Regions from separate parts of the Homo sapiens genome. Here region 1 is linked to region 2. The links come from fine-mapping of genetic effects on gene expression. A gene starts in region 2. The other region holds a variant in brackets. All regions are shown on one strand. Distances are from middle to middle. Region 1 overlaps LOC105370082 (a long non-coding RNA gene). Region 2 holds the start of LINC01257 (long intergenic non-protein coding RNA 1257).

Region 1 (5,369 bases), 69 kb after region 2:
GCCTTAGCCTCACTCTGTGGCCCTGGGTGAGTCCTGTCCCTTCTCCAGGCCTCAGTTTCCTCACTCATAAAATGAGGAAATTGGACTCGTTCTTGGCTCCTCAAACTCCAGTCTTCACTTCCCACCTTCCATGTTCCATACACATTACTTATTCCACGTTTTTCTTTAAATCATCTCACTTTCACTTCACTAAATTCCTCTAAAGAGGAAACATATTTCACCACCATAAGCAGAAAATCATTCTCACTTACCATAAGCAGAAGGTGGCTTGAACGTGAAATGAAGACAAAATGATGTTATTCACAACTAGCTAAGGCCTCGTCTGCCCAAAGCTCTGAGTCTGATGCCCACTCACAGGGGTTGAAAAATCAAACACCACCGGGGGCCAGGATGGGATTTTATTTGCATGTTAAAATGATAATGATGAGGCAGAAACTTAACAATCTATATTCTTCAGGTGTACAGGCTCACTCAACCCTCGTAAGAGCCAGAAAAGGGGCCGGATGCGGTGGCTCACCCCTGTAATCCCAGCACTTTGGGAGGCCGAGATGGGTGGATTGCTTGAGCCCAGGAGTTTGAGACCAGCCTGGGCAACATAGTGAGGCCCCATCTCTATTAAAATTGGTTTTAAAAAAGAGCCAGAAGTGGCAGGTGCTGTTCTCATCCCCACTTCACAGACGAGGAACCTGAGGGTCCGAGACACAGGAAGCTGCTTGATCCTCCAGCCAGGATGAGGCTGAGGGAGAGCCCAGGCCAACCCGCTCTTGGAGTTTGGACTTTCAACCGCGAATTTTCCACAACCGTATGGAAATGTTCGTCCAGGGGTTCTGGAAACACTCAGTCCCCATGGTCTGTCTTCTGTTTTCCTATTTTTGGTAAGCATTAAAAACAAAACAAAACAAAACAAAAGCTCTTCCCTTTCCCTGTTGGTCCATTCTGAGGAAGCGTCACCCAATGTGGTGACAAACAGTAAGTGGCATCAGCCCCAGCGTGGCAGTGATAGGGCGTGGTGGGGACTGTGGCGCGGAGAGTCCCCACAGGAAAGGGAGCAGCGGCTTCACCCACAGATGCTGCAGCAAGGAGAGCCCCGTGCCAGCTGCCCAGGCTGTTGGATCCGTTCAGGGATCCGGCTTGCACGTGGGCCCACGAAGGGGGTCTGCACGCAGGCAGGGTCTCTGTTCCCCGAGCGTCTATCCCCAGCACCCACAGCAGTGCCCAGCTCAGCTAGGGTGCAATAAATGATGTGTGAACTGGTGAATTCATGGAAATCTCCCACTTTTTACCTATTGGGGATTAATTCCATGTTTTAAGTCTGGGCCGGCAGTGCCACGTGGTCCTCCAGGTGTGTCCTCTGTCAGGTGCTAGAGGACACCCCAAGGTCAGCAGGGGCTTCTGCTGGGTCTCTGAGCCATTATTCTCTCGCCTGCCTCACGTGAACACAGGTTTCCTGGGTGGAGTTTAGTTGAGAGATCGCAGTCATTCGCAGGAGGAAACCTGCTGCTCCCTCAGGGGTGCAGTGAGTTTCAGGCATTAGGACGGAGCCAACACCCAGGCTTCCTAAAGCCCTGAACATAAATTTCTCTCAACTCCCTTTTCTTGGGAATTAGCAAATCAAACACTGTATTTTTCAGTGTCTCAAATCTTGCTTCCTTCCAGCTGAGCCCAAGGAGAGTGAAGGGCAGAGGGTGGCACAGGGTGGAGATTTGAGAAGTTTAATTAAAGCCTCAGGTTCAGGCGCAGGGTGATCCTGATCCATCACCAAGGTGTGGCCGCTCCCACTTCATGAAAAGACAGCCCAGCCCTGAGGATCAGAGCCATCTCTCAGATGGAGGAGAAGTCAACGCCTGACAGCCTTCGCTCATTTGACAGATGCTTCCCCTGAATTCTCCTCTTGGTAATAAAGTGGTCTCCATGGTAACTGTTGAGGCCTTGATGATGGATTAGACAGGCTATTTTTAATCATCCTGAAAACAATGTTGGCAGGCATGTAAAATCCTTCCAGAATCTTCCAGCTCAGCCGAGCCACCAGCAGGATGCAACTGAGGAAGTGAACCCAGGCAACGCCACAGCAGAAGAGCCACCCAGCTGGGCCCTGCCCAAGATCCTGACCACAGAATTGTGAGAAATGATGGATTACTGATTTTGTTTGAAGTGACAGCATTTTTTGGGTGGTTTGTTAAGCGGTGAGACGTGAGTCAGGACAGGTGGTACAGA[T/C]TGGGCATGGCTGGGACTTTAGTCAGCCAGGAGAAGTTGTCCGGCATGGCTGTCCACCGGTCTAGGACCCAGGCCACACCGCCCTGCACCTGGTTACCTGCAGCTCATGTTAGTGCTGCCTGGCTGTGTGTGTCCCCTCTTTCTCATTAGGTGCTTTAGTGCCCTCCTGGAATGTCAGGATTTAATTTCCATTCAGCTTTAATAAGTCCTCCTGGACCGTGTGCTCACAACTGAAATTAATTTCTCCAGCCTGGCTTTGGCGATTTTCATCCTTAATTCCTCTGTGTCCCCAGGGCACCTCCAAGCATGTTGTCTTAATTCATCTTCTGTGATTCAACAAAGGGATTGTCCCAGCGTGGGGCACCCGCATGCCATGCACGTCTCACCGCAGCCACACCTGGGCCAGGTAGGATTAGTTCAGAACTGCTTTTGAGGGGCTGTTGTCATGGACACCAAGGGGCAGGTCCATTTCTGGTCACAGACGTGCATCCAGCTTCTGTCTGCAGCCAAATGGAAGCAGCTGCATTTGCTGAAGCCACAGGGGCCTGTGGTCGCCGGTCCTGGGTCATTTTGCCTGCCTGGCATTTGTTCCCTCTCCTTCCAGTAACAAGCCCTGATGGGCTCTGCGCAGCCACACCTTCCCCCTCAGCTGTCACAGCCCCGTTGGAATTGCTTTCTCCTGGGCCAAGCATTTCACAGAGGCTGCACCACTCAGCCCCTCCTAGTCCGCTGGAGAAAGTGGCTGAGGGGGTGGTGGGGGATAATTGCATTTCCAAAGTCCGGGCAATCAGCCAATGTAAACAGGCACCTGCGTCACTGTGTGGGCTCTCTAGGCAACAGGTAAAATACATCAAATACACACAATTTCCTGACATTCCAATGCATTTCTGCGTGAGCTGGGATGGGGGAGGCCGCTGTTCCTCTGGGCTGTTTCTCCTCTCAGCTCTGAGCCGAGCAGCAGGTGGGCTCCTGAATCCCCATCTCCAGGCTCAGGGCTGCTGGCCACCTGCCTGACAGCCCCTTTCTCACCCGAGCCAGGGGCTCTCTGCCCTGCTCTGCAGAAACCTCCCTGGCCTGGCCACCTGCCTGACAGCCCCTTTCTCACCCGAGCCAGGGGCTCTCTGCCCTGCTCTGCAGAAACCTCCCTGGCCTGGCCACCTGCCTGACAGCTCCTTTCTTTTTGTGTTTTCTTTTTTTTTTTTTTTTTTGAGATGGACTTTCACTCTTGTTGCCTAGGCTGGGGTGCAATGGCGTGATCTCGACTCACTGCAACTTTTGCCTCCCAGGTTCAAGCGATTCTTCTCCCTCAGCCTCCAGAGTAGCTGGGATTATAGGCATACACCACCACACCCGGCTAATTTTGTATTTTTAGTAGAGATGGGGGTTTCTCCATGTTGGTCAGGCTGGTCGGGAACTCCCAACCTCAGGTGATCCACCTGTCTTGGCTTCCCAAAGTGCTGGGATTACAGGTGTAAGCCACTGCGCCTGGCCTGACAGCCCCTTTCTCACCGGAGCCAGGCGCTCTCTGCCCTGCTCTGCAGAAACCTCCCTGGCCTGGCCAGCAGCCTCAGAGGCCTCAGAAAATGTCCTGGCTGCAGGTGAAAGAAGACGAGGGTGCAGCTTCCCCAGCGTGCTCTGAGCTCAACCCACCAGACACAACCCCCTCTCACGGTCACACGGGCCCCCGGGCTCCCCTGTGGGAAAGGCCAGTGGAAATGGCAGCATGGACGGAGGCATCCATGGCCCTGTGATGCATGGCTGTGTCAGTGGATGATCTGAGAATTCACCCGGTCCCCAGCACCCCATATCCGCCACCCCATCCTGCTGCTCTTCTCTTTCTCTCTCATGACCTTCTGCCCCTCTGGGCTCCTCACTGAGGACCACCAGGACTGTCCCCGACACCGATGCTAGCTGGGATGTCCGGGCGTCCCTCCCACAAGGTCTGTGCCTGGAGAGGGATGGGCACTGGTGTAAGGCCCACTATGGGGGGAGACCAAGGGCGGGCAGCTCACCCAGGTGCTGAGGAATCCAGGCAGAGCACAGTGTCCTTTGCTGCAGGGTCTGAGGGCTCTCTGCCCATAGAGCTGCTGCGGCTACGCACTGTTACATCTCCGGAAGATGTGCCTTGTTATGCTCTCAGTACTTATAAAAAAGGAATTCTCTGTCCACAATTTATTCCTGTGCTTTAAAAGTTTGAATTCCAGTGGAAAAGCAGCAAGAAGACATGAGCCTCAAGGATGGTTCTGGAGATGGGTCTGATGATTGTGCTTGGTCCACCAAAGCTTCCCACGAGAACAGCATGTTTGTTTTTGCTGACACCCCCAGCCCCCAAGCTCAGTTCCTCTCTTGGGAGGCTGAGGGGTCACAGGGTCCTGAAGTGTCCCCGGGCTCACACCCAAATGGAAGACCTGTTTTCCTCAGGAAGTAATCCTCGCCAAGCATGTCAGGTGTAGGATACCATATGTCAGAAGTCACAACAGGAGGCCGGGCACGGTGGCTCACGCCTGTAATCCCAGCACTTTGGGAGGTTGAGGTGGATGGATCACCTGAGGTCAGGAGTTCAAGACCAGCCTGGGAAACATGATGAAACCCTGTCTCTACTAAAAATACAAAAATTAGCCGGGCGCAGTGGCACATGCCTGTAAATCCCAGCTACTCAGGAGGCTGAGGCCGGAGAATCGCTTGAGCCCGGGAGGTGGAGGTTGCAGTGAGCCAAGATCAGGCCACTGTACTCCAGCCTGGGTGACAGAGTGAGACTCTGTCTAAAACAAACAAACAAACAAAAAAAGAAGTCACAACGGGTGATGAAAAGCAAAACAATTTCATTTGCATCTCTCCAGTTCTTAGCAGGCTTCCACTGGGCGCTGAGTTCCAGGTCTATATTTATTCACCATCCGTTAAGTCACTGAATTTGAATTACACACTTTTGAGGATTCTGAATGGGAAGAGGCACTCATAAACTGCCTGCGTGTATAATCCTGAGCCTTGTTGCTGTGTCAGCCCCATGAAAGCTTGTTTATTGGTAAATATCAAAATGCAACATTTCCCTCAACTTACCTTTAATCCTCTTTTTATTACGTTTTCTAGACAGGAATTTCTTCTTTCAAGGAAGGCTGTCATAGAAAGACATGTCACCTTGAGGCGTTCCTTACCAT
Region 2 (5,369 bases):
GGCTGTTCCATGGATTATGTGTATATTAACTGCATGCCATCTACATGCAACCTACACATTCACTCACCCAGGGAGTGAATGGTTGCTCACGTGTGTTATTATAACCGTGCAGGCTGCTCGCGTGTGTTGTTATGACCGTGCAGGCTGCTGGCATGCACTGTCTGTATTTCCTGTGTCCATGGTGCCTTCATGTTACCTAAGTGTGTCAGCATCTTGTGTCACTTGTGCCTGTCATCTGTTTGCTGGTGGTCATTTGTGTTGCCACGTGAGTCTTGTATTTTACCTGATATGTCGTGTGTGTGCGTTCTGCTGCAGGCTACTTCTGTGCGTTTGCCTGTAAACAACCTGTGTGTGCCACCTCCTATTACCTGGGCCTGCTGCTCTGTGTATTAAACCATTCCCGCATGCTCCCGTCTGTCCGCTGCTCGTGGGAGGAGTCTGCGGATTCCTTCCTTGTATGACCTGCATGGTGCTGTGTGTGGCGCTGCCTGGGTGTATCTGCATCACCCATGTTTGTGCCACCTGCACCTGTACTTATAGGTGTCACACACGCAGGCTGCTGACATGATTATTACCTATGTGCTACATGTGGACACTGCCAGTGTCACCCAGGCACGGGGGCTCATGGATACTCATATGCTGCCGCCAGCGGAACGCACCCTTCCCTCTACTGCGGCGCGAGGGGCGGGTAGAGACGAAGGCTGGTAGGAAACTCTGGGGAACTCCGGGTCCTCCAGCTGCTTCCGACAGGGCCCTCCGGGTCACGGGAAGAGCCGGCCGCTGTCCTCACCGGGACCGGGACCAGGACCGGGACCGCGACGGCATCTCCCCGCCCGTCCCTGAGCCCCTCCTTCCGCTGGCCAGGACCCTCGGAAGCGAGCCCGAGCCACTCCCCCTCCGACCAGGGGTCGTCCAGAGGCCTGGCTCGGGGAGCCCCGCTGCTGCCCGGGTGGCAAGTGCTGCGGCCCCTCTGTGGACTCCTGCCCGGCTGGCGCGGCCCTTCTCCGGCCTGACCCTGTTTCTCTGTCCCGCACGGGCAGACGCGGGGACAGCGGGCTCTGAGGGCTCGGGGCTGGCGTCCAGGCGGGGTCTGCCCGGTGCCCCCCCCCCATGCTGCCTTGAGGCCCCTCGCGATCCCAACGCCCGCGCCCTCCGGGTTTTCACAGCAGGGAAATTGAGGCCACGGGCCCAGGTCAGGACCGCGCAGCAAGGAAGGGGAGTGATCCAGGTTCTGGGGTTCCGGATTCTGATCCGGCTCTGTGTGGATGAGGACTCCTTGGGCTAGGAAGCCCAAAAGCCAAGAAACGCTCAAATGAGCTCAAGGAAATAAAAGCGGGGAGGGGACCTGGCCCTGGAAACGCTGCAGCACAGACCTGGCTGCAGGCTCGACTGGATCCAGGGCTCCAGTGATCTTTTTTTCTGTCTCATATCTGGGCCTTCAGCGGCTTTGGCCCTGCTAATGCCCCAATCAGGGACCTCTACCTGGCAGGCTCCCCCTACAAAGGAGTAAGATGGCTGCAGCTGCTTCCTGGCTTCCTCTCAGCTCCGTAGCTCTCCCGCCAGCCCTGGGGCAGGTCCTGGCATGCACTCTGATTGGACTGGCAGAGTCATGTGACCAGGTCTGTACCAATCATAGGCCCAGGGCACAGCCACCTGACACTCTGATTGGACTTGCTCCGGCCATGTAGCCAGCTCTGCACCAATCACAAAGCCAGAGCACAGCCTGTGGAAGTGTAACAACCTTTCCCATTGGCCAGGGAACAAATCCTGATGCTCACTCCGATTGGACTTGCTCGGGCCACGTGACCAGCCCTGCACCAATCACAGAGCCAGGGTAAGGGGCTTCCAACCACACCTGGGCCACAGGCCCCTTCATAGACCAAGAGTCCTTGTAGCGGTCCCAGCGTCTTAGCTGTGGGTGTGGGGGCTCCTGAGTGAAACTCGGGAGGTCCCGGAAGGAGGGGGCGAGGCCCTCAGCAGCTGTGGAGTCTGTGCCCTGAGGCCCCACACTGGGAACTGGGGACGAGGAGACGGGGACGCGGCCCGGGTCTTGACCTCCTCAGGCTCACCAGACACTGCGTTCAGGCCTCCGGGACGGTCCTGGTGGGGCTCGGCCCCCCTCGTCCTGCGCCTCCTCTGGGCCCGCGGGTCCCCAGCTCCCCCAGCCCCGCCGCGGGCCGCACCTCTCTGGACGGCGCTGTCAGGAGTAGGAGTTCAGCCCCAGCGCATCCGCGCCAGGACCCGGGCTCTGTGGCCACTGAGTGCAGAACACGCCGAGCTTCGGAGGTCTGGGAGTTCCAAGTGGAATTTGAATTTTTAATCTAATTGTCTGATTCGTGAACTCGGAAGCTGACGTCACGCCCAGACGTCCCAAGGTATGAGCTGTAGATACGCATGTGAGCGCTGGTGGGAGACGCCAGGCTGGGATTTCCGCTCGATCTGGGAATGAGCAATGCAACCTAATGACACCCGGAGCTCCTGAATCACCTGGGGAAGATGAAGAGAGACACTCTCTGGTGGGAACGTCTCCTAGAAACAAGGCCTAAGATGGGGCGACCACAGCCCCACAGCTGTGTCCAGATGCAGGGAGCACTCGCCTGTGCTGTAAGTCTGTCCCACGGTGGAGAAAGGGCCCAAACCCCACAGCCCTGCGGTCCACCCTTCAAGTGATTTGGGCGTGCTCTCTTTCAGCACTCATGAGTCCCCCAGCAGGTGGGGGTTGTGGGGAGAATCCACATCAGCAGTTAACCCCCTCACTTTGGTCTGTGAAGCCCTACACGCTCCTCTGTCTTCATTTCCTCAGCGTCATATGCTTGACTTTCTCCACCCCCAACCTGCTCTGCCTCTGTGATTATCTTCCTTTTTCTTTACTTCAGGACCTTTGCACTTGCTTTTCCTTCTGCTTGGAAAGCTCTTCCCACAGCCAGTTGGGTGTCAACTCTTTCCCATCATTCTAGTGGGAGAGTTACCTCTCCAGAAACCCCCTCTGGGACCTCCTTTTTCAAGCCTACCCTACTCTCCACCGTTTCACCCAATTTGGTTCCCTTCATAGCTGGCATCACTGTCTTGATGAGGGCTGAGCCCATGTGTGTCTTGCTCACTGCCATGTTTTCAGGATTGAGAGGCTGTTAGTACATAGTAGGTGGTAAGTAAACATTTGGTTGAATCCATGAACATCTATCATGCACGGTGGCAGCCCATTATGGGGAAGATACTGGCTTAGAGGAAGATGCCCAGAGTCCCCTGGAGAAATGGAGGAAGGCTTCACAGAGGAGGGGGCTCTCCATGAAGGCAGATTCACCAGGCTGGCAATGGGAGAGGACATTCCAGGGGTGGAAACCAGCAGGGCCAAGGCTTAAAGAGTGCACACAGTGGGGTGAAAGGGAACTGCTGGAAGTGGGGGAAATGGGAGATGGAGGAAGGTAGGGCAGCAGGTGAAGCTGGAGAGGAGGCAGGGGAAAGCCTTCTGCCCCAGGATCGGATCCTCTGAGGGAGGGGGTAAAATGATGGTCACCAAGATCAGATTTAATCTGCAGGCCTGTGAAGGAGGCACTGGGCTCCTGGTAAATAAGAAATCTCCCAGGGCAGAGACGTCACGCTGGAGGACCACGTGCTGGGCAAGATCCTCAGGTGTTTACTTAACATGATCAGTGTTAACATTTGAATTAGTGGCTGATGCTTAAAATTGAGAGGTTTTGTTTGTAATCCAGGTTTCTGATTTTCCTGAACAGTCAGGACTCTGATTACCTCAGGCCCCATTCTCAAATGGCAGCCATGGCTGAGCAGTGGACATTCCCTCCTGGGGGCATGCTCTCACCAGCTCATCCAGCCCACCCGCTCCATTTCTCCTGTAGCCATGTGCCCGAGGGTGTTCTGAAGATTCCAACTTTGCATCAACTCATATTCACTGAATGGATCTTTGGAAATGGTGATACTGTTTTTGACCTTGAGAAAGTTTGACTTTCATGTTACATGAGATGGACAGACAAGCAGTTCAACATATCACAGGACAGCATCTGTGTGTGGAAATAGTGGGGAGAACAGAGATGGTGTGGTTAGCAGAATCACGCCCCCCCAGTATGTCCATACTTAAATCTGTGGGATGTATAAATATGTTACTTCACATGGGAAAAAGGGCTTTGCAGATGTGACTAAAGGTATTGGCCTTGAGATAGGGAGAGCATCCTGGGTTGTCCAGGTGAGCCCAGTGTCATCATGTGAGTCCCTAAGATAGGATAACTTTCCCAGCTGGGTCAGAGAGATGAGTCAGAAGGAGGAGAAATTCAAAGCTTGAGAGAGCCTCACCCTGTTGCTGGCTTGGAAGGTAGAGAAAGCTGCCAAGGCATGCACATGGCCCCTAGAAGTTGGGAAGGCTGAGCCGATAGGCAGAGAGAAAACAGGGGTCTCAGTCTTACAACTACAAGGAAATGAATTCTGCCAACAACCTGAATGTGTCAGCAAATTATCCTCCCCTAGGGTCTCCAAAAAGGAACACAGCCTGTGGATACCTTGATGTTAGTCCAGTGAGGTCCACGTCAGACTTCTGACTTACAGAACTGCAAGAAAATATTTGTGTTGTCTAAGCCACTAAGTTTGTGGTGATTTGTTGGGGCCGTAGTGGGAATCTAAGATAGGTGGTTATGGTTCTGGAAGTAAAGGAAAGCTGCCCTTCAGCTTGCAGAGACTGGAAGGCAGCTCCACTTGAGGCCAGGGGTGTATGTGCAAGGTATTGGGTGGGGAGAGCTGACCTTAGGATGGAGAATAGAAACAAATGTGCTGAGAAGGATGCGTCCAGCTGCCCAGGAGAGAACGCTGGCAGTGCTCACCAGTATCCTGAAAGGTAGAACAGGGTGAGTCAGCCCCAAATAACCACCACCATGAACTGGAATCCTGAGAGCGAATTACCCACTTAGCAGAGTGCTGACGCTGCCATTTGCTTAGCAGACTTGGCAGAGGATCAGCAGAACGACTTCCTAGAAATGCTGGGGCAAAGAAACACATTGGAAAGTGTGTGATCTGCTGAAGTGTTTTTATTTTCTATTGAGAATGTTGTGTTTGTGCTTTTTGTGTCCTAACTGTGAAATGATACATTGAAAGATTGATTTTGTTAAGAAACTGCTCTTTGCTTGCTATGATCTTCTGGTATTTTTGAAAGGTTCTCAGGGAGGGGGTCATTTCTTTTTTTCTATCACTGGCAAGTCTGAATCACACACCATTATTTATAGAGTAGTTGGGCAATTTCTCTCAGCTTTTCTGATCACCAGCTGTACCAGCTCTGGCATAGATCTTAGAACGTTGTCTGTGGCCTGTGGCGGTGATGACTTCCTGGGAAAAGCCCACATTGAATTCTTATGATGATGTTGAGCCTA

Evidence for each region. PIP is the estimated chance that this variant, and not a neighbour inherited with it, causes the effect.
Region 1: its variant is fine-mapped to the expression of LINC01257 in thyroid (GTEx, PIP above 0.99).

Annotation. Positions count from the first base shown.
Region 1 is chr12:131,232,032-131,237,400 of GRCh38, forward strand. It overlaps LOC105370082 (a long non-coding RNA gene), which reads right to left. Exons shown (of 4, transcript XR_945559.3): 4 at 1-5,369. Among named protein-coding and RNA genes, the nearest start is that of LINC02415, 63 kb to the right of the region's middle. RefSeq lists an enhancer at 2,670-3,279. The variant T/C (reference allele first, on the strand shown) is at 2,215.
Region 2 is chr12:131,162,627-131,167,995 of GRCh38, forward strand. It overlaps LINC01257 (long intergenic non-protein coding RNA 1257), which reads left to right and starts at 2,385. Exons shown (of 5, transcript NR_026670.2): 1 at 2,385-2,604.